Linked DNA regions of Homo sapiens: region 2 is reported to be linked to region 1. Evidence: microRNA targets listed by miRTarBase, many of them from high-throughput screens and not tested one by one. Region 1 holds a microRNA gene; the other region holds the end of a gene's coding sequence.
Evidence for each region. The annotated mature microRNA hsa-miR-7706 reads UGAAGCGCCUGUGCUCUGCCGAGA and lies in region 1 at 1,995-2,018, opposite strand. An mRNA with a match to its seed (bases 2 to 7 or 8) in the 3' UTR can be bound and repressed. Matches are read on the target gene's strand: a 7mer-m8 pairs with bases 2 to 8, a 7mer-A1 pairs with bases 2 to 7 and ends in A, and an 8mer does both.

Region 2: miRTarBase lists ZNF124 as a target of hsa-miR-7706. Seed matches in the 3' UTR shown: 7mer-A1 at 1,488-1,494.

Annotation. Positions count from the first base shown.
Region 1 is chr15:85,379,247-85,382,656 of GRCh38, reverse strand. It overlaps MIR7706 (microRNA 7706), which reads right to left and starts at 2,061; the gene lies at 1,995-2,061. It overlaps AKAP13 (A-kinase anchoring protein 13), which reads right to left and starts at 2,054. Exons shown (of 37, transcript NM_007200.5): 1 at 1,859-2,054. RefSeq lists silencers at 1,350-1,517, 1,174-1,743, 2,124-2,203.
Region 2 is chr1:247,153,711-247,157,120 of GRCh38, reverse strand. ZNF124 (zinc finger protein 124) reads left to right here. Exons shown (of 4, transcript NM_001297568.2): 4 at 1-2,132. The coding sequence ends at 555. Among named protein-coding and RNA genes, the nearest start is that of ZNF124, 17 kb to the left of the region's middle.

The DNA.
Region 1 (3,410 bases):
GAGAAATCCTAAAACAATAGTACCTACAGTATAACATGCCATCACCGCCCAGAGAAGGAAAGCAACTAGTGCACTCGTCACGTCATGTTGTAAGTAGTACTTGCTTACATTATGTCCCTCCCTGACAATCCCTTCCAACCTCTGTCAACCTCCTTCCCCACAATCACACACACAAAACCACACAACCAGGAAGGGAAGCCATGGAGCGAGTACTGTGAATCCTAAAAGCGGCTCTGTAATTTAAAAGTGCAATGGCTGTACCTGAAGAAAATTTGTCTTTAGCTTCATCAGGTGAAGAAAATTGGTTTTATAACACAAGGCCCACCAAACCAGAAAAGCCCAGGAACGCTTCTCCACAGGACTCACTTAGCACGAGAAATCACTCTGAGCAAACTGACACACACAGTATTTCTCAAATTTTTCTTTTTCATTTAGCAGATGGTAAAGGAATACAACTGAAGTTAACAATAAATGACACTCTGGCCATTTTGCTCCACTATGAATGACAGACATTTAAGCTAGTTCCATCTGGGGAACTGAAACAGAATCATGTTCATATAATAAGCCACACAAACCAAATTAAGTGTAATATGTGCACCCAAACTTGACAAAACTTGTACTTAATGCAGCCTGCAAATCCCCAAGAGTCCACGACAGAATACAAGAATAGTAACAATGATTTATCTCAACTGATCTTAGCTTCTTCACAAACTTGCCAATAATGACCTTTCAAGAACTGCACCGTTTGTCCTCATCTGCGCAATCCAACAGTTCAGAAAAACTGAAGAAAATGCTTCTTCTAAAAATAAAACACTTGTTGTGGGGGGGACTACTAACAAAAAAAAAGGCACACTGGTTTTTACTGTACTGAAGCAATAAACTCTCCAAATAACTTCATTAAGGAGTGTCATTAGCAAAGAATGAACACCAAAATACCGCTCAATCCAATTTTCATTGTGAATTCCGGGATCTAGAAAATTAAATGGGACGGTATCACTCTGCTATAAGAACTATTTCCAAAACAAAACAAACCTATCTACCCCCTTTCTTGATTTTTTTTTAAAAAGTTTTAGGGTTTTTCCTTTTTTCAACTTCACATACTTCGTGGCTTTGCAAAAAAAAAAAAAAAAAAAAAGCAGTAAACCGTATTTACCAAAAAAAAAAAAAAAAGTTTTGTTTGGTATCAAAGTATAGCTGCAAGCTGAGCCGGCTGGCTGCACGGGTCCCAGAGCGCGTGGGGACCGCACGGGTCTCCTGGGCCGCTCGCCTGCGACCCGCGCGGGTCAGCTGGGCCGCACCCCCGAGAAGCCGCGGAGAGGCACCGACAGGCAGGCGCGGCCCGACGTGTTTACCGTCCGCGTCGACCCCGGGGAGCCGCTCCCTCGCGCCCGCAGCACTTGTTCACGGCGCGGACTCCACGGCGGGGACTCCACACCGCGGCCGCCCGCCCCAGGGGAGGAGTGAGCCCGCCCCGGCGGCGCCGACCCGGGGACCCGGGGCAAGGATTCGGGGCCTCGCTGGGGGCGGAGCGCCTGAGGTAGCATCGGCGGCCGGGCGCGCCCCCCACCCGGAAAGCGGCGACGGCCTCTAAGTTGGGCTGCGGAGTGGGAGGCGCGCCGAGCCCCAAGCAGACAATGCGGGAGAAGGGCGATGCGCAGGGAGGAGGGGTCCGCAGACCTGAGGTCCCGGCGCCGCCCGGCGACCCGTCTGTCCAGCCCGCCCCCGAAACCCCCGCAGCCCCCGCCCCTCCTCCGGGGCCCGCCCCACCGAGCAACCGCAGGGGACTGGCCGCGCTCCGCGCCCCGACCCACAAATCACAAAACTTCCCCCAACTCCGCCAACTAAGTTGCGCTCTCACCGTGCGGCTCCCGGGGCTCCCCCGCGGGCCGAGCTGGGACAACTCTTCACCTTCGCCGCGGAGAAAGACAATAGGCGGCCGCTCCCCCGGAGGCGGCTAAAGCGGCGGCGACCGAGGCGAGCAATGGGCACGGCAGTCTCGGCAGAGCACAGGCGCTTCACCGCGGCTGCTCGGGCTCCGCGCTGGCCCTGCACACAGCTCCAGTCCGCGCATGCGCCGAAAGACGCTCGGGAGGGTGGGCGGGGCACGCGGGAAGGCGGTAACGCCTGCGAGTCCTCCCGTGAGTACACGCGGAGCAAGAACTGCGAGCTGGGATTGCACGGCAGAACTGCCCATCTCGCTGCATGAGACCAATAGTAAGGCTCCTGGACGGGGCACTCAGGTTGCTAAGGGAGGCTGAGGTTGACCGCCGCTGCTGCTCGGCGGCAAAGTGATCAAAGTAGGGTGGCTGGCAGAGGCTGCTCTGGGAAATGCCCACCCACGGTCTCCTCTCCGCCCTGTCTCCAGAAACCGCCCTTCCTCTGTGTACTGGTGGTTACCTGAGCTGCAGCACTTAACCACACATCGTGAAATGATTTACTCCTCTATTTCCCCCACTTCAACTCAGGAAGTGGGGTTTAGTCTTCTGTGTCCACAGCCTAGGACCGTCTAAGGTATTAGGTATTAAATATAGGTATTAAACAAGTGTTGGATGGATGCACGGCGCTATGGCGGAATCACAATTGTGACAGTGCATTCCGTGAACTTCTGGCTACTCGATCACCACAAAGTCATTCCGTGTTCGAGCTGCAAAGGACCTCAAAAATCATCTGGTTGCTTTGGGAAACAAAATGTGGTCCGTGTACCAATGGTGCCGGTAACCACCGGCCCACAGAGGAAGGGCGGTTTCTGGAGACAGGGCGGAGAATATATTAGTTGGTACACGAAGAAACTTCTTTTTTCAAATAGTTAAGTGTTTTTAGTGCGCATTAGGAGGGAAATGCCTATCACGTCAAACCACTGTTTCATTAATGTTATTTCTTAGGTCAAATAAAAAGTGGCAAAAAACGAAAGCACTTCAAGAAAAGTGTTAAGTAAAAAACTGAGACAATTTATATGCAGTTGAAGAACGTGTAAAACTAGTTGATAGTGATTGAAGTAAGAACAGCGGTTAGGTAGGAGGAGAAGATTATTGGCTGGGAAGGAGGAGGAGGGAACCCTCTGGGGTGCTGGTTCTGTATTTTGACCTGGGTGATAGATAACAAAAGTATATACATGAATAAAAAATACATCCAGTGCACTTTAGTGCACTTTGCACATTTTAAACATGTATTTTTAATGTCAGTTTTCAAAAATCTGGTACAGGATATTACCCCCCCGCCCCCAAAAGAAAAGCAAAGATGCAAATGACTGCCATTTGGGAAACACTGATCCAGGCGGCTCACTAGCAGTGACCAAACACCTGAGAAAGGGTATTGTGAATACCTGATGTGTGTGCCAGGAACTTCCATTGTTGAATAGCTCCAAATCTCAGAAATGCTCCTAATGTTGAGCTCTGGTGCTCACATATATT
Region 2 (3,410 bases), not on the chromosome of region 1:
CATAAAAGGATTCACACTGGAGAAAAACGCTATGAATGTAAGCAATGTGGGAAAGCCTTCAGTCGTTCCAGTCACCTTCGTGACCATGAAAGAACTCATACTGGAGAGAAACCCTATGAATGTAAGCACTGTGGGAAAGCCTTCCGTTACTCCAATTGCCTTCATTACCATGAAAGAACTCACACTGGAGAGAAACCTTATGTGTGCATGGAATGTGGCAAAGCTTTCAGTTGTCTCAGTTCCTTGCAAGGACATATAAAGGCTCATGCTGGTGAAGAACCCTATCCATGTAAGCAATGTGGGAAAGCCTTCAGATACGCCAGTTCCCTTCAGAAACACGAGAAAACTCATATTGCACAGAAACCCTATGTATGTAACAATTGTGGTAAAGGCTTCAGATGTTCCAGTTCCCTTCGTGACCATGAAAGGACTCATACTGGAGAGAAACCCTATGAATGTCAGAAATGTGGCAAAGCCTTTAGTCGTGCTAGTACCCTTTGGAAGCATAAAAAAACTCATACTGGAGAAAAGCCCTATAAATGTAAAAAAATGTAAAGGCTTTAATCACTACAGTTTTTGTCAAAAACATGAACAGTCACATACTTGAGAGAAACTGTGAATGTAAGGTGTAGGAAAGTACTTAATTTTCCCAGATTTCCTCAAATACATGAAACGAATCAAACTGGAGATAAACCCTATGACTATAAGCAATAAGGTAAAGCATTCAATTTTTCCATTTCTTTTTGAAAACTTGAAAGGACTCACTGAAGAAAATCCATATGAATGTTTAAAATGTGGTAAGGCCTGCAGTTGTTCCAGTGGTATTTGATGGTATAACATAACTCATTCTAGAGAAAAACTTTATGAAGGTATCGAATGTGAGAATGCCTTCATTTATCCTATAACTCACTCAGAGACACATGGTAACACATACTCCAGATTGACCTTATAAATAAAAGAATGCCCACCAGATTGAAATCCTAGAAATACAGAAAATTCTGAATTTTAACAATTACTTTAAAGGTCATGTGAAAACTCCCACTGGAAATAAATCCTGTAAATGTAAATATTATGGAAAACCTTATGGAAAATAATTATAGTACAATTCTCAAGAAAATTCACTATGTGAATGAGATGTTTTAGGAGCTATAAATAAATTGAATATATTGGTTGCTCATTTTTGAAGAGAGTCTCTAGAATATAGATTTTCACTTCTTTTGAAAAAAAAAAAATTGAGGTGAGACTTTTTTTTTTTTTTTTGAGATGGAGTCTCACTTTGTCGCCCAGGCTGGTGTGCAGTGGCACAATCTCAGTTCACTGTAAGCTCTGCCTCCCAGGTTCACGCCATTCTCCTGCCTCAGCCTCCTGAGTAGCTGGGACTACAGGTGCCTGCCACCATGCCCAGCTAATTTTTTGTATTTTTAGTAGAGATGGGGTTTCACCGTGTTAGCCAGGATGGTCTCAATCTCCTGACCTCGTGATCCGCCCGCTTCAGCCTCCCAAAGTGCTGGGATTACAGGCGTGAGCCACCACGCCCAGCTGAGGCAAGACTTCTGTAAGTATTCTTCAAGCAGTAGTACAAGAGTTAAATATGTATTCTTCTTTTTTAAGCTGGTAAATAAATTTCCTTTTTCTACCCATTTTAAAGTGTGTTGGTTATATGGGTAAATTGAAATGTATTTCTTTTCCTTTTTTCTTGCATAGCCATTTTAAAAAATATTTTTTAAATATTTAAAGTATAAAATATTTTTAAAATTTTTTAAAAATTTTGTGGGTTACACAGTAGATGTGTGAAATGTATTTGTAGGTTTAACTTCTGTGTAGTTTAATTATTTTGTTATTAATTGGCCATTGATAAATGAGTCTATTTTCTTTGCTAATAGAGTTGCTGTCAATTTGTAAGTATGTAAAGTTTATTATAGAGTATATTCTCACGTGAATTATTATTTTCATCTGTTGTTCTTTACATTGTCATTATTTTTGGCTATTTGCATAGGTAACATTGGTTTAAGGAGAGAGACCTGTGATCGAACAGTGTCTTGTGTCTAATCTGAGAAAGAAAGCATCCAGTCTTATCATCATGTATGATGTTAGCTGAGGGTTTTTAAAATAAATTCCTTAAAGCAGGTTGAGAAAGTTTCCTGCTGTTCATTATTATTGAATATTTCATTGTCAAGTGTTGTTGAAGTTTTTCTCATGGTTTTTGTGCATCTATTGGAATGATCTTGTGGTTTTTCAAATTTATTCTGTTAACATGGTATATCACATTAATTGACTTTCTAAAATAAGAAATTGGGTCTAACTTTGTCACCCAGGCTGGTCTCAAACTCCTGGGCTCAAGTGATTCTCCTGCCTTGCCCTCTCAAAGTGTTGGGATTACAGATGTGAGCCACTGTGCCCAGCCAAATTGACTTTTAGATGCAAAAACAACATTGCTTTTTTGGGGGGTTAAATCTCTCTTGGTAATGAAGTGTAAGTCTTCTTATATATTGGTAAATTCAGTTTTGTAGCATCTTTTGAGACATTTTGCATCTATATTGAAAGAAATTTGAGTACCCTAGCATAGTTTATAGTGCTATATACTATATAGTGTTATTTCATATATATGTAGTTTATTAGTTCATTCTTGAACTGCTATGAAGAAATTCCTGAGACTGGGCAATTTACAAAGGAAAGAGATTTAATTGACTCCCAGTTCAGCATGGTAGGGAGGCCTCAGGAAACTTACAGTCCTGGCAGAAGGTGAAGGGGAAGCAAGGCATCTTCACAAATTCACAAGGTGGCAGGAAGGAGAAGTACAAGCAGGGAAAATGCCAGATTCTTATAAAACCATCAGATCTCATGAGACTCACTCATTATCATGAGAACAGCACGGGGGAAACCGTCCCCATGATTCAGTTACCTCCACCTGGTCTTGCCCTTGACACGTGGGAATTATTACAAGTCAAGGTGAGATTTGGGTGGGGACACGGAGCCAACTTATATCTGTGTGTGTGTGTGTGTCACACATATGCGTGTACAAGGAGACATCCACTCTGGGGAGAATTAGGTATCTCAGACAGTTGCCTGACAAGTGATTGTTGTGTAGGAAAGCATAGTGACCTTGTGTTTTCTGTGCTGCTTTTTCTCTTGCTGCTGTTATGTGCACTCTTCTGATGAGGTGCATATCCATAGATCCTCATGATTTAGGTGCAGATGAGCAAAGACAAGGGAAATAATCACTTTATATTATCCTCTCCCAGTACCCCTCCCAGTACTAAACTCCTAGCCAAAGGGGGCTTTCGTTAGCATGGCTGCTCACCAGCATTCTAAAGATATAATCCTGTGACCACAAGACTTGATGAACTTAGACAAAATGACCTTCTTATGGACGCTAACTTCAGCAAGATTTAGTAGCCCTCACTGGAGGC